Homo sapiens: one gene and its partners. The protein of the gene in region 1 purifies or fractionates together with the protein of each later gene. This does not show direct contact. Each region holds a gene or a part of one and is shown on either strand. Other genes may lie near its edges.

What was found. Proteins that work in one complex are often made in the same cells at the same time.
Region 2: the proteins of RBM45 (region 1) and FAM120A purify together in Homo sapiens (co-immunoprecipitation; 3 studies listed by BioGRID and IntAct, with this or other methods). This does not show direct contact.
Region 3: the proteins of RBM45 (region 1) and RBMX purify together in Homo sapiens (affinity purification with mass spectrometry; 4 studies listed by BioGRID and IntAct, with this or other methods). This does not show direct contact.

The regions. Positions count from the first base shown.
Region 1 is NC_000002.12:178,107,557-178,115,441, forward strand, and holds the start of RBM45 (RNA-binding protein 45), read left to right. Parts: upstream 1-4,880; 5' UTR 4,881-4,990; coding exon 4,991-5,290; coding exon of another isoform or gene 5,291-5,719; intron 5,720-7,885. UniProt on the Homo sapiens protein: RNA-binding protein with binding specificity for poly(C). May play an important role in neural development.
Region 2 is NC_000009.12:93,559,653-93,566,612, forward strand, and holds the end of FAM120A (constitutive coactivator of PPAR-gamma-like protein 1), read left to right. Parts: intron 1-1,456; coding exon 1,457-1,598; intron 1,599-2,555; coding exon 2,556-2,652; intron 2,653-3,352; coding exon of another isoform or gene 3,353-3,367; exon of another isoform or gene 3,368-3,911; intron 3,912-4,576; coding exon 4,577-4,888; 3' UTR 4,889-6,460; downstream 6,461-6,960. UniProt on the Homo sapiens protein: Component of the oxidative stress-induced survival signaling. May regulate the activation of SRC family protein kinases. May act as a scaffolding protein enabling SRC family protein kinases to phosphorylate and activate PI3-kinase.
Region 3 is NC_000023.11:136,872,961-136,877,757, forward strand, and holds the end of RBMX (RNA-binding motif protein, X chromosome), read right to left. Parts: intron 3,696-4,797; coding exon 3,543-3,695; intron 2,626-3,542; coding exon 2,511-2,625; intron 2,424-2,510; coding exon 2,298-2,423; intron 2,209-2,297; coding exon 2,126-2,208; intron 1,493-2,125; coding exon 1,182-1,492; 3' UTR 501-1,181; downstream 1-500.

The sequences.
Region 1 (7,885 bases):
ACAGCCCTGTAAGATGGATACCATTAACATCTCTATTTTTATAGATGTAGAAAACGAGGCAAACAGAAATTAAGTGACTTGTTTACGGTCACAGATTGGTGAGCAGTGGAGAAGAATTAATATTCAATCTATAATCTTATAGGTTTAACAATTCCTTTTTTTTTCTTTTTTTTTTTTTTTTTTGAGACGGAGTCTCACTCTGTCGCCCAGGCCGGAGTGCCGTGGTGTGATCTCGGCTCACTGCAACCTCCGCTTCCCGGGTTCAAGTGATTCTCCTGCCTCAGCCTCCTGAGTAGCTAGGATTACAGGCATGCACCACTATGCCTGGATAATTTTTGTATTTTTAGTAGAGACGGGGTTTCACCATGTTGGTCAGGCTGGTCTTGAACTCCTGACCTCGTGATCCGCCTGCCACGGCTTCCCAAAATGCTGGGATTAGAGGCGTAAGCCACCATGCCAAGCCAACAATTACTTTTTAAGGGTGACTTGGCAACCCTGTGTTGAACACAATATCTGTAACACTGCAGATGCTTACAACTTTTTACCCAACTGAGAGTGCTTAAAGAGGAATAGGTGGGTACATACCATTGCTATGTCTTATTTTTCATAAAAAGAGAAATGCTAATGAAACACTTTTTAATATTGGCATTAAAAACGGCCAGCGGTTCCTCCCTTTGCCCCCGCTCCCAGCAGTCACCTGGAACAGCCACCTGGCCAGAGTCCACGCCTCAACTTCGAGGCTGGCGATCCAGAAAGAGCACCTCACGCCCTGGGCTGCAAGCGCAGCCGGACGCGCGCGACCAGTGATCGCCAGCCAATGGCAAGCCGGGACCCGGTCCCACTGCTGATTGGCCCCCAGATCCCGTGGGATCTCACCTCTCGCAGAGGCTTAAAGCCTTGTACTTGCTGTGCAGTGCTTGGCTCTGCGTGCCCGCTGTCCAGTAGCTGTGGATAGCTCTTGAGCTGTCGGAAACTGGCTAATTCAACTGAAGAAATGAATTTTTAATTATTTTCATTATAATTCATTTTAATTTTAGGTAATTTTAAGTAATTTTAATTTAAATAGCCACAGTCACCAGATGCTTTAATGAAACTATTCTAAGTGGTATCTATGAATTTTGTCCTGTGATCTACACATTTAAAAGATGTATGTCATCAAGTTGAATCAAAAGGAGCAGGCATACTGTGAAAAAAAAAATCAGGTGTTAGATATTATTCTCAAACTCAAAGGCATGCAAACTCAAGAAGGAGACTACCATTTCTTGAGTGCCTGCCACAGGTCAGACTAAGTAATTGCCTACGTTATCAGTAGACAGTAGCCTTACAGATGGGTCAAATGGAAACTCTGGATCATATTCATATACAACAATCTGAAAGCTACTAATTGATCACCAATAAGTCTTAGTTTTAAAACCTATAAAAAATTTGCAAATAGGGCGAAATATTTTTAGTTAATTGATGTAACATATGAAGACTAATATCACCAACTAAGTAAGCCTCATTGTACTTCAGTTTGGAAAATAATGACAAAAATTTACTATTTGCTCCTGGCATTTCAAAAATTAGTCACAATATCACCTCTCATTTTTAAAAAGAAAAGATTTGAGGGAGAAAAAGTTTCAAAAAAATCTGAATTTCATGTGAAACAAACATGTGTGCACATTCTAATAACAGTGCTTTATAGGCTACATGTTCTAAAGCCTTGAAAAAAATTTAATCTGCAAATGCCCAGCACCTGGTTTCTTCTATTAAGCAGACTAACTAAAAATCATTCTTTTAAACCTCAGACATTTTTAGGTGTTTTAGTTACATGTAATTCATGTTCAAAGGTTTTATGATTTGAAATATAACAATTTGGTCATTGAGTGATGAAATGTTCTAAAATTGATTGCGATGATGCTTGCACAATGCTGTGAAGGCACTAAAAACGATTTAATTGAATACATCAAATGAGTGAATTGTATGATGTAAGAATTAGAACTCACTGGGTGTGGTGGGTCTCACCTGTAATCCCAGCTACTTAGGAGGCGTAGGCAAGAGAATCACTTAAGGCCAGTTCGAGATTGCCCTAGGCAACATAGTGAGACACCAATCCCTTAAAAAAAAAAAAAAAAAAGAAAAGAAAAAATAAGATAAGAAGAAGAATTATATCTCAATAAATCTGTTTAAAATAAATACATGTCATGAAGAAAATGTACTTACTTTTTTTAATTTATAAGTAAATTTCTAATTTTCCTTGAATATGTCATATTTCACATAATTGGATAGTAAAGAAATTTTGCTTTTCTGGCATTTTCCAATATTTGCGTTCCTGGTTTTGTTTTATGCAATCTTTTATCTTTTTTTGAGAAAAGAATTAACTGTTCTCAATAACAGCCTAAAATTTTCAGGACACCAATCAGTAGTCTTATTTCACAAAGAATAGAGATTGCCCAGTCAGGACAATTTAAGAAAATTACACATTTTCCACTAGATGGCACTGGTTTGCAAATAATATTGCTTTGCAGTTCCTCTCATCAACAAAACTCACACTATCAAATTATTTTCATTTACCTTGATTGTTGTGGGTAGGAAAAAGAGAAATGGAAAGTCAAGAAAAGATACTTCCTAGAGTTGTTCAGCCTCAGGGTAAACAGAACCCTCACTACAGATATGGAATGTAATACAAGGAGAAATTATAAAAATCTTAGTGCTAAATCCAGGGTGACAACCCACAATCCCTGACTCTCAGTAGTCATCACACAACTGTATAATATCAGTGGTGGGGGAGTGGATACCATAGTCAAAGGGAACAAGAAAATTAATCTCAATTATACCATTATACAAATATTATCTCATTTGATCTCTAAACTATGAACTCCATATATATTATCTTATATGAGCATAACTATATAAGGCTAAATGATTAACTCTGTGGGGGAAGAAGAGTAATTATTTTGTTCAATACTACATCCCTTCAGTATAACACAGTGCCTAACACATAGTAGATAGTCAAAAATACTTATTAAGTGAATGGGTGAATTAATTAAACTTGATAGTCATGCTCCTGCGTAGCTATTAGGCGGCTATCAAGCTTAACTAATCCAACCACAAAATAATATGTATTACCTATTTAGTAGGTAATATTATTCCTACTTTACAGTTAATGAAACCGAAGCTGCAAGTATTAAGTAACTTGTCCAGGCTCACACAATTCAGTAGCAAAACCATGTAACATAATCTGATATTACTTTGCATTATATATTTACATGTAAGATTTCCACAGTGGGGGAAAACAAGCCCTCGGGACATGTCTTTCCTGTTCCTCATTATATATCTAGCTCCTGGCATAGAGCCTGGCACACAGTTGGAGTACAATAAGTATTTATCTGGTTGACTTCATAGCAACCTAGGTCTTAGCATCCAGAACTTGTTCATTTGAAGAACTCCGCCCTCGGTCTACTTAGGGGTTTATTCCTTTCACTTCATTCCAATGCCACTGCTAAATCCAGGCCTTGTTTCTGGATTTCTACTGGGTTTCTGACCTCTCCTCTAAGGCTTGTTAACAAGAAGGCATTTCCCACTTTGCTTGCACTCTATGATTTCTCTTAGTTCCACAGCTGAGCAGTCCACCCTCACTGCCCTCCAACCCCAGGGTTGCTTGTAGAAGTTGAGTAAATCAACAGATGGAGTTAGTTCTGGGTTTTTTGTTGTTGTTGTTGTTGTTTGAGGTGGAGTCTCGCTCTATCCCCCAGGCTGGAGTGCAGTGGTGCAAACTCTGCTCACTGCAAGCTGTGCCTCCTGGGTTCACACCATTCTCCTGCCTCAGCCTCCTGAGTAGCTGGGACTACAGGTGCCCGCCACCACGCCAAACTAATTTTTTTGTATTTTTTTGGTAGAGACGGGGTTTCACCGTGTTAGCCAGGATGGTCTCGATCTCCTGACCTCGTGATCCGCCCGCCTCGGCCTCCCAAAGTGCTGGGATCACAGACGTGAGCCACTGCGCCTGGCCAAGTTAGTTCTGGTTTTAGTCGTACTTTTTATCTCTATTACTTTGGCTATGCTATAGGCCTCAGTTTCCTCATCTCTAACAAATGACGCTGAAATTGAATGATCTCAAAGCTTCCTTCCAACTCTAATGCTATATAGTTTGAACTCTGTCCTATATTGATCATCTATTGAGCTTATGACCAAGATGGTGACAACTCTCCACTTTGACCAAAACTTAGTTAGGCTCCTTTGAGTCCTCTGCTTGACTAGGCTTGATCTTGGGCTTTCTGTCCTTGTAGAATCCAATTTGAGCAAGAATCCTGCTGAATCAGTGTAGTGAAAATCCTCATTCTTGGTGTCTGACTACCATGGATATCAATCACCCTGGCCTGCCTTCAGCAACTATCCTGTCAAGTTGGTTTAGCCAGAATCCTCCTTAACACTGATGTTCCCTCTTTGTAATTTTCCATCCACTGACCTCCCACCAAGCTTCTTGGTTAGAAATTTGTCCTTATTAGAGTCAAAATTCAGTCCAATCTCTCTCTCCCACTGCAAGACCCCATTGCAGCTGTCCCTGGACCTATCTCCATGGCTCCCTTTGTCAAAGTCGGCCTTCCTGTACCATCTCTAACGAGTGTCATGAATAATTTTTTCTTTAACACTGGAAAGAATCCTTGGCCTTAGGGGTGGGGTAAAGCCAGCGTTGGGAAAGCCTGTGCATTAGGCAGCGCTGTTCTGCCTGCAGGGAACGATTGCACAACTGATAACTTGGGCCTAGGCTCAGCTGGATTTGAGGATTTGAGACTTAGACTGGGTCAGGGTCCCCCGCGTCGCCAGGGGGCGCTGCAGGCCGCTCCCCGGAAGGCCTCATCCTGCGCGGCTGGACAGCGCCTGGCGCCGGACTCCTCTTTCTCCCGGAAGCGGAGCACCGAGCCGGCAAAGGCTTGGGTGTGAGACAGCAGCGGTGGCAGACACCGCAGAAGCAAAGAGCAGTGAGGCTCCTGCATTCGGGTGGAGCACCATGGACGAAGCTGGCAGCTCTGCGAGCGGCGGGGGCTTCCGCCCGGGCGTGGACAGCCTGGACGAACCGCCCAACAGCCGCATCTTCCTTGTGATCAGCAAGTACACACCTGAGTCGGTGCTGAGGGAGCGCTTCTCGCCTTTTGGCGACATCCAGGACATCTGGGTGGTGCGGGACAAGCACACCAAGGAGTCCAAGGGCATTGCTTTCGTCAAGTTCGCCCGCAGCTCACAGGCCTGCAGGGCCATGGAGGAGATGCATGGCCAGTGCCTCGGCCCCAACGACACCAAGCCCATCAAGGTGCGGGTGCCCGGGTCGGGGTGCCCTCGGGGGAAGGAGTGGGCCTCTTGGACCTCCCTTCACCTGCTGCTCTGCCGGGGTGAGGGAGGAGTGGAACATCCGTTCCCGGCAGCTGACCAGACAGCACCTGGCTTGGGGACAGGGGCTGCTTTGAGGAGAGGCTCCCCTCCCACGAAGCTGCGCCGGGTTGCAGGGAAGGGGACGGGATGCGGAGTGTTTGCCCCACGAGAGCGGACCCGGCAGCCGCGGCCACCGGGTGACAGAACAGCAGTGGCTGGGCTTCCCCTCTCCCTCGCCCTCACTAATCCACCAGCTCTTGAGTTCACTGCCAAACTCGTCCTAGCCTACTTTGAGTACTTTTCTGACCTTCCTCTCTCAGATGCCCAGATTTCCATATATAAAAAACGGAAAAACTCTACTTTTCCTCAGGTACAGATGAGGCGTTAACAACTTGACAGAAGTACTTTAAACTGGGGAGGGACCTCTGGTGTTGGACGTTTTCCTAGTACCAGGCGAAAGAATACATGTACAGAAAGAATAAGTGCAGGTGTTTAAAACGGTCACTGTTACATATTCTTCACATTTTGTTATTTTGGAAAATTGTTTTGAATGAGCTCTGTTTCTGAAAGTGTTAATAGCATACATTTGGTTCTTGACCCTTTCTGTTACTGCAACTTTTCTTTGAAAGCAGACCAAAGTAAACTGCCTTAAGAAGAGCCAAATCATTGTGATAATGACACATGGCAGGAAGGATCATTTTGAGGGTTATTTGACATAATATGTGCTGTCAGCACAGTGCCTCACACAGGGTAAGCCCTCAATAATGTCCTTGTTATTGATCAGTAGTAGCCAAGATGTCACAGCTTACTCCCTGTGATCTCAAATCAGGACTCAATCCTGAGAATCTGGCAATTGCTTAAATTGTAGCCTTCGTCTGCCCCATGTAAATAGTTGCTGTGTATGTTATTCTGTTGGTACTTTGCACAAAAATATTTTCTCAATTTTTTAAAAAATTGTTTTCCAAACTGAGAATGGTATTAATATGGATTTATGTAAATAAAGGGCTCAGAGATATTTCAGTCTCTGGAGGTCTTGCTCCATCCACCAAAGAGAAGGAGCCTGGGACTCTACCAACAACACAGTAAACAGTCCCTTCCTCCCACTTCTCCAACCCTCTGAAGTGTGTCAGAGTGACAGCAACAAAATTAATTGTAGGGCCACAGCATACAGGATCAGGAATTGGCAAACTTTTTCTGTAAAGGGCTGACTAGTAAATATTTTAGGCTTTGCAGGCCACATACAGTCTCTGTCACATAACCTTGTCTGTTTTTACAGTCCTTAAAAACTGTAAAAACAATTATTACATCATGGGCTATACCAAAAATGGAGCTGTGGTTTGCTGACCCCTGTACTAGACTAATGAATTTTATCGCTGTCCAATTATGACCTTAGTGGAGAGGATTTTTATATTTTGAGTGTAACATGGCCACAGAGCCCTTGTGGGCAGCCCAAAAAACTGTCCCATATTTGAAATTGATGGACCACCTTCCCCTGATAAATTTCTATAAGAGAAATTAAAGGCCCAACACCGAAATGTACCCTCTCTTTTAGCCTCAGAGAAATTAAAGATCTTGTTCCCAAAAAGAAATAAACTTTACTATTTTCTTTGTCACATTTTTGACTATTCAGTTTTAGCCAGAAGGTTGTTTCACTGTAGTACCTAGCTAGACAGTCTAGTTTCTGTTTCTTTTTCTTTTTTTGAGACAGAATCTCACTCTGTCACCCAGGCTAGAGTGCAGTGGCTTCTTGATCACAGCTCACTGTAGCCTCCACCTCCCAGACTCAAGCAATCCTCTTGCCTCATCCTCCCTCTCGAGTAGCTGGGACTACAGATGTGCACCACCATGCCCAGCTTATTTTTTTTATTTTTCTTAGAGACAGGGTCTCACTATGTTGCCTAAGCAGGTCTCAAGCTCCTGGACTCAAGTGAGCCTCCCGTTTCATCCTCCCATTACAGTTGTGAGCCACCACACCCTAACAGACTAGTTTCATTCAGCAGCTGCAGCTTGAGCCATCTTCAACTGGAACACTCTTGGGTTGTTTTCAGCATTTCCAGTTAAATTAATTCAGCTTCAATATTTCTATTGTACTTTGCTTTTACAAAGTTTCAGAGGATCTGTAAGACAACAATATTATCTTACCAGCCCTCAGCCAGAAAAGATTGTCCAAGTAAAAGTTATTCTGTGACCAACTATGTTATCTGGCGGAAAGGGGGAAACCTAGAAAACAGAAGAAAAAAATCTTGGCTGTAGTTTTGCAAGAATGCTTCTTATCTAGAGCCTATGAACACTCAGTCTATGAAGGTAAAAATTTATGGGAGAAATCTACCATGAGGAGGTTAATTATTTTACGTATGTTCTACATAGACTGTCTCCTTTATCAGAGATTTGAAACACCTCAGTCCTCTAAAATATAGAAATCTGTGCTCTGATGGCACTTCCAATTTCATCTTACCTGAGGTTCTTTTTTTTTTCTCTAGTGTCTTTGCATATACTTAAAGCTTCCCTATTTGTATTTCCCTATTTACCATTTATT
Region 2 (6,960 bases), on another chromosome or scaffold:
TCCTCATGCAGCTCGCAGCCATGTTTCCTCTCTGCTTCTTGATTTGCTTCAGCTCCTTCTAGTGCCTTGAAACTGAAGCTGGCCTGTAGTTGGGATCAAAGATGGAGGGAGAGGGGAGATTGTACTATGGATAGTGTAGGGCAAGAAGTGAATTCTTACACTGGAATGATAAAAGGAACCTGCTTCCTGAGTTTCTTAAAATTGTGTCTGGAACTCAGATTTGCACTGCCTAGTATAGTAGCTGCTGGCCACTGCTCTGTTGAGCACTTAAGCTCTGGCTAGAACATGTAAAATACATATCAGATTTTAAAACTTAAAATGGGAAGCAGACTAAAATAGCTAATCAATTTTTTATCTTGGGCCAGGCACAGTGGCTCATGCCTATAATCTCAGCATTTTGGGAGGCCAAGGAGAGAGAATTGCTTGAGGCAGGAGTTCAAGACCAGCCTGGGCAATATAGTGAGACCCCTGCCTCTACAAAAAATTTTAAAAATTAGCCAGGTATGGTGGTGCACACCTGTAGTCCCAGCTACTCAGGAGGCTGAGGCGGGAGGATCGCTAGAGCTGGGAGGTCAAGGCTGCAGTGAGCCGTGATTGTGCCACTGCACTCCAGCCTGGGTGACAGAGCGAGACCCTGTCTTAAAAAAAAAAAAATCTTGACTACATGTTGAAATAGTATTATTTTGGATACATTGAGTTAAATAAATACATTTTTAAAACTTCTTTCCTCTGTTTCTTTGTACATTTTTCATGTGGCTACAAAAAAATATAAGCTTGTTGTAGGTTTCTGTTGGACAGTGCTGAATTGCCACAGCTAACACCAAGATGATAGTTGTTTATTATCCATTCTCACTGTCAGAAAACAAGATGCTTGGGGCTCTGGTTTTGTTTGCTTATTTTTTTGTTTTTAAACAGAAGTTTTGCTGCCAATTAGCAATTAGAGAATTTTCTTAGGTCAGAAAACTTACAATTTGCAGTAATCAAAAGAAGTTAGTAAATTCTATTTGTGACTCTGCTTATGGAAATTCTAATTTAAAAACACAGTAAGAAATACAGGCTAGATTTATTGATTCTATGATGTTCAGTTAAGGTAGTAAACCTAGAAGTATTCGCCTAAAGAGAAAAACATTCTTGAGTTTGCAGATTGCCATCTTGGTAATATAGAAGGCATGCCATATGCACCTGATGACACTTTATTGTATCTGTTTCTATCTAAAAAGCCTTGCACATTTGCAGTTGTAACCTAATTCAGTTCTCATGGGTTCTTCACAGTAGTTTAAAGTCAAACAGTGTGCACATAGATACACTACATAATAAAAAATTGTACAAAACAGGAGAAAGTAGCTTCATAGTAAATATAAACCAAAACTGAAAAGAAGTTTCTTGCTTGTATCTTTTTGCTATTCTTAATTCTGTGATTGTAAAGATTTTGTCTTTTTGTATATTTTTTATGCAGGAGTCCAACCTATACCTTCTCAGGGAGGCAAACTAGAAATAGCTGGCACTGTGGTTGGCCATTGGGCTGGGAGCAGGCGGGGCCGTGGGGGCCGGGGGCCTTTCCCCCTGCAGGTGGTTTCTGTCGGAGGACCAGCTAGAGGGTAAGTTCTGAGCCACGAAAATGTCTTTTGTATAAGTAAAGAAAACAGCTTCTAACTTGCTTTTTTTTGGAAGTTTAAGTAGGAACATTTTTATATCATTAGATACATTCTTCTTTAATATCATTTGTATTTAATTATTTAGTTTTTATTTATTTATTTATCTTAAGATGGGGTCTCACTGTCACCCAGGCTAGAGTGCAGTGGCACAATCACAGTTCAGTGTAGCCTTGACTTTCTGGGCTCCATCGATCCTCCCACTTCAGCCTCCTGAGTAGCTGGGACCACAGTCATGTGCCACCATGCCTGGCTAATTTTTGTATTTTTGGTAGTGACAGGGTTTCGCCATGTTGCCCAGGTTGGTCTTGAACTCCTGAGCTCAACCAATCCACCCACCTCGGCCTTGCAAAGTGCTGGGATTACAGGTGTGAGCCACTGCACACAGCCTTTAACATCATTTATAATGTTTGCATAGGATCCCATTTATAGTATTATGTAATTATTTAATTAACCATTAAATAATTAACAATTATTAAATAATTAACCATACAATTTTCAATTAACCAGGTGCCTTAATATTTTTAAAGTATTAGTTTTCAAATCAAATGCATTGGATATGGGAGATGTAGCTCAGGGGTAGAGCATTTGACTGCAAATGCATTGGATATGAACCAAAAAAATAAGATTGATTCCTTGGAATAAATCTTCCCTATGATCATACTTAACCTGTTTACGCCTAGTGTTCCATTATTGGAACGCAAAGCATGTGGGAGTTCTTTATGTCCTACTGCTCAAGGTCTGACTGCAAAAATTCAACAAATTGCAACTTCCGGCATAAATGGGTTAATTCAGTGCTTCATAAAACGTAAGATTGGATGGCTTTAAAATCATTTGATACTATTTTAAATGTTGTCTGTAACAGATTTAAGTGTTTACTGTTGTCCTTTTTCATTCATTTAGGCGTCCAAGAGGAGTTATTTCCACCCCAGTGATTAGAACATTTGGAAGAGGTGGAAGGTACTATGGCAGAGGTTACAAAAACCAGGCAGCAATTCAGGTAAGAAGACAACATGATGTTTGTGCCAGTTCAATGCCCTCAGGGATGTCTCCTGTCTGAGCTTGCACTTCTAGTACCTGCGCTCAGACAGAAGAGCTGTGAGGGTAATGCTTTAGCTGTCAAGTGTCTAACACAGTAACTGGCACACAGCTGCTCACCAAATGTCCATTCCCTAGAGCCCAGATCATTTTGCTGTTAAGTGCCTCTTCAGGTTGTCTCTCCCCTTTGCCATGACCCTGTGTCTCTGGTAGCTTCCCGCCTGGTGTGACACGATGGGCTTGGCTTACCTTGGGCATTGCCTAGCCCTGACAGAGCTGGAACAGCCACTTGTAGTTTCTTTTTTTTTCTTTCTTTCTTTTTCTTTTTTTTTTTTTTTTTGAGATGGAGTCTCGCTCTATTGCCCAGGCTGGAGTGCCGTGGCACAATCTCCGCTCACTGCAACCTCCACTTCCCGGGTTCAAGCGATTCGCTTGCGTCAGCCTCCCGAATAGCTGGGATTACAGGTGTGTGCCACGACACTCGGCTAATTTTTGTAGTTTTAGTAGAGTTGCAGTTTCACCATGTTGGCCAGGCTGGTCTCAAACTCCTGACCTCAGGTGATCCGCCCGCCTTGGCCTCCCAAAGTGCTAGAATTACAGGCGTGAGCCACCATGCCCAGCGGTCCTGCTATATTTTTATGTTTTATATTATTTGTCTCAAGGTTCAAAGAAAATGACGATTGCATTGATTCATGGAGAAGGGTGCGTTAATATTTCTGAACTTTAGGGTTGGAAGGTAAAATAGAGGATGTTGTAGGAGAGTATGTGGGGACCCTTGGTTTATGGGGGCCATTCCTTAGGCAAGGGTCACATCTCCATCTGGGTTGATGATTTTGTCATCAACAAGGCAAATACCCTGGTTTTCAGAATGGGAGGCCTAGAAGATGCTGGAAGGTACCACCATCTTTGTTGGGAAGGGAATGCGATGACGAGCTGGAAGGTTCCTGTTCTCGTCTGTAAAATGACTGTTTGAAGGTGAAAAACATCCATGTTTTCTTCAGCACCGAGTCAGTCTATGACAGTGGCTCTCAGCCCTGGTGATTGGCCCCCAAGGGACATTTGGAGACGTTGATTGTCAAGACTTGGTGTGGGCACTGGATTTTAATGGGTGAAGCCTAGACATTTTAACGGGTGAAGACAACATGATGTTTGTGCTGCTAAACACCCTACGGTGTGTGGGACAGCCCCATCACGGAGAGTGGACAGAGCCAGCGTATCATATGCTAAGGTTGAGGAGCCCTGGTCTAATGATAGGAGCAATTCAAGATCTGTCTTCACTGCCTTCACAGAGAGCCATGTCTTTCAGAAAATGTGCTGGATTAGTCTCAAGGACCATTTTTTTCAGAGGCTTATTTTTAAATCTGTTCAGAGGAGTGGGGAAGACCCATTCAGAAGAGTTATTTCACAAACACGTGGCAATTATCAGTGCAGATTTCTTGTTAAGGTTCCCTAGCAATGACTGTATTTCCCCAGTAGAAATGGGGTGTGTGTGCTGCTGCACATCACAGGCAGATGTGGGAGACCCTGTTTGTTTTGTGGCAGTGGGAACAGTCGCAATTTTAGAGAGGACTTATTGAGGGGCATTTGTTACTTTAAACAATTTAGTGCCATACAAAGGATTAGACAGAGCTCCTGAAGGGGGAATCTCCCTCATTTTCAGGGTGTTAACTACAGAGGAGTTGAGGGAAGGGGCCATGGAGGGAACTGACTGAGACAGGTAGAGCATCTACCGCCCAAAAGTCAAAGCAAAGACAGGGTTAGAAGGACCCAGCTGGGCATTTTCTGCTCTTGAATCTGCAGAGAGTGTCATTAGGCCAAAATTGGCATCCTCTCTCTTCTGTTTATCAGAAACCACCTTCTCATTTGTTGTCCTTCATTTTAAACAGGGCAGACCTCCTTATGCTGCTTCAGCAGAAGAAGTGGCCAAAGAACTTAAGTCAAAATCTGGGGAATCGAAGTCCTCTGCTATGTCTTCAGACGGGTCCCTGGCTGAAAACGGAGTGATGGCCGAGGAGAAGCCGGCTCCCCAGATGAACGGGAGCACGGGTGACGCCAGGGCCCCCAGCCACTCTGAAAGTGCCTTGAATAATGACTCTAAAACGTGCAATACAAATCCTCATTTAAATGCACTAAGTACAGACAGCGCTTGCCGCAGAGAAGCTGCTCTGGAGGCAGCTGTCTTAAATAAAGAAGAGTAAACTTATTTTTTATAGAGGGTGAAGGATGCTGGAAGGGTAAGGATTTAGGAATATCTGGAGAGAAAGAGAGCCTGCAGTTATGTACATTTTGTCCTTTCCGTAAGAGAAAAATGAGGACTTTGGAAATTCAGATCCCTCTTTGATATCAGAGATTTAAACAACACATTTTTAGTTTTAACCAGTTGTAGTCAAAATGCTACAATAAAACAAAAAAGAGAAAGAAAATGAAGAGCATTTGACTCCCGCACTTAAAATGAAGTACACATAAAGTTTAAACTGGTTATGACAAAAGCCTTTAGTTGTGTTTCTTGAACTATAAAGAAAACAAATTTTGGCAGTCTTTAAGTATATATAGCTTAAAATATAATTTTTAGCATTTGGCACCATATGTATGCCATTATATTTGATTTTGCATTACTGTTTCACAATGAAGCTTTCTTTAAGGCTTTGATTTTTATGATTATGAAAGAAATAAGGCACAACCACAGTTTTTCTTTCTTAAATTTCATCACTGTTGATGTGGTTCTTTTGTGTTAAAAAAAAAAAGTGCAACTATCAAAACTAAAAAATTATAGAGTAATATTGCCGTTCTGCTGATTTTAAATATACAATACATCATACATACTTTACAAGCAAGTTAAATGGAGATAAAGTTGAAATCATAGAAGATGCAAATGACCTTTCAAAATCAACACAATGTGTTCTGAAACTTTCGTGACTAATACCATGCATCTGTGATCAATGAACTATGTGGTTTTGAATCGGATGTAGACCATTAGTACTACTACTTGAGCTAAACTTCTGCATGGTTCATAATTTTTAAAGTGTGTAGTTAATATGCATGTTATCGTCCTTTCTTCCATTCTTAACAGTATGTGCCCATTTGCAAAACAAAAATGCTAATAATCAGTAATAGTCCTATAAAAGATGTTAACTCTGTTTAGTCATTGACTGATCTTGCTCTAACCTTAAAATTTTGTGATTATTGACCTCTGTTGCATTTATTCTAAAGCCCCCCAAAAATTATCTAGCCGTTTCGAATATCAACATTACCCTGGTGTATTCACTGCTGTATGCATTATTGTTCTTTGTTGCTGTTTTATGCCTTCATATTAGCAAATATGAAATTCTGTGAAAAAAAACCCTTTGATCTTAAAAAAAAAAAAACCACCCCCCCCTTCTGTAGCAGGAAACAAATTGCTTGTTCTTGAGAACTTTCCCATCAAGAATTTAGTAGAAGCAGGTATACTTCTATCATTTTGATGTTTTTGTTAATGTTTCCAAACAATGTACTTTGAAATCAGAATCACTTCTTATCGTTTTCATATACTTCTGATGCTCTTCATCACATTAGTGATCAGAAATGAGGTGTAATTCCCCAACCCCTGCCCGCAAGAGCTAAGTAGGATCTTACTGTAAGTTGAAGGGAGTTTTGCCCTAACTCATGGATTGTGCAAGAATGAACTGCTGTTGGGTTTGATTGACTGTCGATGGATTGTGGTGTGGTGTATCTGAAGGCTATTGAATGCAACTTACAATGCTTAATAAAAATCTTTATTCTTTTAGTATAAAGTATGGCGTGGCTTTTAAATTCACTTGTAAAAGCTAATTTTATAGAGGTTTAATTCAAATCGAAACAACTACTGAAAAGATCAGAAAACCAAAGTTGAAAAATATTTTACCTTTTCAAAGTAATTCCAGGTTTCCGGCTTAGAGGGACATTAATATATGATTAATTTGTTTGATAGCTCAGTTTCAAGCAACCAAGGGGATAAAAAAATTCTGTTTGATAAAGCAGACTTACAGAAGAGGTTTTTTTAAGCCCTGAGGAAGCAATAAATTTGACTCCACCACGTTTTAAAAGCTGGATGTTACAAGTATAGTCCGTTTTTCATGCCATCCTTTTGACTGAAGGCTCTTCTCTGCAGCCTGATATGAGGTCCCCGTACCCAGGTCCGCCGAGCGCCTGGAGAAAGCGCCCCGTGCTGCCCTCTAGCGGGGGATGGTGGGCTAACGGCGCCGGAGGCGGCCAGGAGAGCTGCGGCGATCCCGCTCCAGGGAGGGGCTGGCGC
Region 3 (4,797 bases), on another chromosome or scaffold:
TTTGAAAAAAATACCCCCTCCCAAGCCCCAGATCGCCATTGGTAAACAACAGCTCTATTAATAAAGCCTTTAAGTGTCACACATGCTTTAAAAAAAAAAAAAAAAAATCCAAGTGTTGAATTTGGAGGACTTCTAATACGCTATTGAATATTTCTTTTTTCCAAAAGTTTTTTTTAATCTAGAAGGCATTTCCATTGCCTTGAGGTACAGTATGTTTCACTGTACTATGAGGAAGGTAAGTGTTCAATTTCGACTTAGACGGAAAAACTAGTTTGCTTTGCTTACCATCTTTGCTGTTTCACAGGCATTTGATGCTTTAAATCTGATGTGGAATGCTGATAGATTCACTTTTTAGAAGTCATAAGCCTTTAGGAAGTTGGAGATAACTTCATTGCTTATCTATTTTCTCCTTTGCAATCAAGCTGTTCCTTTAAAAGTGAGACACTACAGAGTTGCAAAAATTTGAAACAGTAAGAGCAAGCACCTTTGCAGCTTCATGGTTGGTTTTGGCCAAACTTTTTATTTAGTATTCTGTAGTTGTTTAACACACACTTAAATGGTCTTATTGGGGGAAGGGAAAGGGGAGGTTCTTGCAGATTCCCAAGGAAATGTCAGAAAGGCAAAATGGCCAGCATTATCCATTTGCTTTTTTGGGTTTACTGGGTGAATAGCACTTTCCTTACATAGGCATGTGATTTCAGGTTTTTCGTACTGAGAACATTGAGATTTCAGTTGGAAGACACCCTGAAATCTTATGAGTAGCATACCCCAACCACCCTCTAATAGCTAGCTTGTTTGTATAGGTAGAATGATTCATCTCTCCATTTTAGATGGCTAGATGTTTTGTGGAAGATCTTAGAATTGCCTGCCTCATTTGCTGGGAAAAATCAGATAGGAAGTGGCCTTTAGGGGATACTTTTACTTGGAAAGTTACAACACTAGTACAAGTCTTAACACATTTAACATTTGCTTGTTGAAAAGCAATGCGAAAGTCAAATAAAATTAAACATGTTTTACTTTTTTCCTCACAAGAACATAAAAATTATGGAGGGGAACTTAACAGGGAATTTAAAAAAAGTAACACAATTTTTCCTTTTAGTAGTCCTTGGGTAGTTATGATAGAATAGTTTCCACTTTTTGTTTCTTTGAACTGGGATTTTGGTCCAAAGTTTTGTTTGTTTCTAGTATCTGCTTCTGCCTCCCCCTCTATCAGATCGGCTTCCTCCACGGCCACCACCTCTTGGTGCTCCGCGGCTTGAACTGCTGTAGGAATCACGTGGAGGAGGGTACCCCCTTTCCATAGAAGGGGGAAGCCCTCTTTCTTGTCTGCCAACCCGATCACGACCACTTGAGTAGAGATCACTTCGGCTGCTTGAGTAACTGTCTCGACTTCCACCATATCCGTCACGTGAGCTGCTGTAATCATCATAGCGACTGCTTCCACCATAAGATGGCGGGGGCCCTCGTGTAGGTGGAGCACTACGTGAGTTACCTGCAGGGTCAATGGTCAGGTAATATGGCAACACTATAAATTGTATATATACAACATTTTAAATCTGAATTTACAGAATTCTTGTATTAAAAGTTTACTTTCTCAACTGGGTGGGAGGTTTTAAACTCTGCCATTGCTGGCCATAACAGGGATTTGCTCATCTGCTGAGATATGGAATTGGATTCATTTTAATGTTTGTTTGAAAAGACTGAAGACGGTGTGTATTTCAAGAGGATATTCCAGAGAGCTTGTTATTTTATAGTAGACACTCAGCCACTTTCCAGTGATAAGTTGCAATTTTGAACTGTAGAACTTGCCTTCATATTGCAATGGTAAATATTTGATCTTGTTAATAAAATTTTTAAATTGTATTTTCACTGTTGGGGGAAAACACATAAGGCTGCCAATTTAAGCAAGCAAAATCCCCTCCAAAGCAAGCAAACAGCCTCAAAAGAAACTTAGAAAAACAAAAAAAGCCCCTCACAAAACTAGGAAAAGCCCAGCTGATAAAGTTACCCCTTTAAAAGCAAGCAAACATCCCTTTAAAAGCAAGCACCACACAGCCTAATAAACTGGCTCACGAACCTAAAAACTCAAGCTGGTGATACTAAAGACCCTTAACCAGTATCTTACCATAACTCTCATATGAATCTCTGTAGGAACCTCCACTTGGATGATCTGAATAGTCACGATCACGACCATATCCATCTCTATCGCTAAATTAAAGAGAAACCTTTAAGTCCCAGAGAATCAACTTTCATTGCAACTTTTCTTACATGTAAGCCACAGAAGCAAAGTCACTTACCTATATCCTCTTGATGGATAGTCATCACGTGAACTGGAATGACCATAATCACGGTAAGTATAATCTCGTGGTGGTGGTGCATAATCTCTAGTATCACGAGAACTTGGGTAATCTCTGCTTGAATAGCTACAAAGCAAAAGTTTTGGTTTATGCTTTTGATAAGCTTTCCTTCAACCTTAATTATTAATTTAAAAAGCTGCACTTTTCTATTACCTGTCTTTAGTAGAATACCCATCATCTCTTGGGGACAAATAAACATCTCTACGAGAGGGCAGCGGTTCCCTTCGAGGTGGACCTCCATAACTATCTCTTCCACGTGATACAGGAGCTTAAGGAAAAATATCATTTTTTTAAACATAGCCAGAGAAAAAAGTTAAAACGTGAACTTACATTCAGGCTATGAAAAATAATGAGACTGACTTCAAAGATGACATTACGGAGGCTAGATCACCTAATTTTATTTTCTACAATTTCCCATTCATATTTTAAATTTTTTTCAGTGCTAATTCCATTTATCTAATCACCTAGAACACATGACTAAAAGTTTTGTTTTTTTTTTTTGAGATGGGAGTCTCGCTCTGTCACCCAGGCTGGAGTGCAGTCGCGCAATCTTGGCTCACTGCAACCTCTGCCTTCTGGGTTCAAGTGATTCTCCTGCCTCAGCCTCCCGAGTAGCTGGGATTACAGGTGCCCACCACCACGCCCAGCTAACTTTTGTATCTTTAGTAGAGACAGGGTTTCACCACGTTGGCCAGACTGGCCTCGAACTCCGGGCCTCATGATCTGCCCACCTCAGCCTCCCAAAGTGTCAAGATTACAGGCGTGAGCCACCGCACCCAGACTCCATGAATAAAGTTTTTTTTTTTTGTTTTTTTTTTTTTTTTGGAGACAGAATCTCACTCTGTTGCCACGCTGGAGGACAGTGGCATGATCTCGGTTCCCTGCAACCTCTGCCTCCCAGGTTCAAACAATTCTCCTGCCTCGGCCTCCCAAGTAGCGGGGATTACAGGAACCCGCCCTACACTCAGCTAATTTTTGTATTTTTTAGTAGAGACGGGGTTTCACCACATTGGCCAGGATGGTCTTGATCTCTTGACACCGTGATCCGTCTGCCGCGGCCTCCCAAAGTGCTAGGATTACGGGCGTGAGCCACCACGCCTGGCCAATTAAAATTTTAAGCATCATTCACCTCTCAATTCTTTGTGTTACGGTAGTAGCATAAATCATCATACATGGAACATTTACCTCTTCCTCCCATTCCACTGCTACTGCGAACTGGTCCTGAAGGTGCAGATCTCTTAGGAGGAGGACCCCCACTTCTTGGTGGTGGTCCTCTTTTTACTGGGAGTGGTCCCCTGGAAGAACTCATGTTAAAATTCATGGAATATCCACCGTCATCTGCATCAAAAATAGAAAAGAAAAATATTACTACTCACAAGAATCAAGAAAGATATAAAAGTTTTTTTTTTTTTTTGAGAGTCTCACTGTCGCCCAGGCTGGAGTGCAGTGGCTTCATCTCGGCTCACTGCAACCTCTGCCTCCTGGGTTCAAGCAATTCTCCTGCCTCAGCCTCCCGAGTAGCTGGGATTACAGGTGTGCGCCACCACACCCAGCTAATTTTTGGTGGTTTTTTTTAAGTAGAGACAGGATTTCACCATGCTGGCCAGGCTGGTCTCGAACTCCTGACCTTGTGATCCGCCTGCCTCAGCCTCCCAAAGTGCTGGGATTGCAGGTGTGAGCCACCAGGCTCGGCCACTATAAAAGTTTTCTTTGCTTCATCAAGAATATGACCATTATTGGGCCGGGCACAATGGCTCACGCCTGTAATCCCAGCACTTTGGGAGGCCAAGGCGGGCGGATCACCTGAGGTCAGGAGTTCAAGACCAGTCTAACACGGTAAAATCCTGTCTCTACTAAAAATACAAAAATCCAGGTGTGGTGGTGCATGCCCGTAATCCCAGCTACTTGGGAGGCTGAGGCAGGACAATCGCCTGAACCTGGAAGGCAGAGGTTGTGGTGAGCCAAGATCGTGCCACTGCACTTCAGCCTGGGCAACAAGTGCTAAACTCTACCCCCCCCCCCCCAAAAAAAAACCATTATTGATTTGGGTAGTCTAGTTTCACTTGTACTTGATGGAGCATGCACTGCAGTCATAGAAACTGGGGAAATAAGAACTGAAGGTAGTCTTAAAAAACTTTTTTTTTTTTTTTTTGAGAGGGAGTCTCGCTGTTCCCCCAGGCTGGAGTACAGTGGCACGATCTCAACTCACTGCAACCTCTGCCTCCCAAGTTCAAGTGATTCTTCTGCCTCAGCCTCCGTAGTAGCTGGGATTACAGGCACCTGCCACCACGCCCAGCTAACTTTAAAAAATAAAAATGATTTCATTTTCATGTCCAACACCCTGGCCTATCAATTTTTAAATGCCTTTCCTACAGAGTGAACTACTTGGACAAGAAGTAACACTGTCCACGGTTTAACACCATAATCTAAAACATGCTTC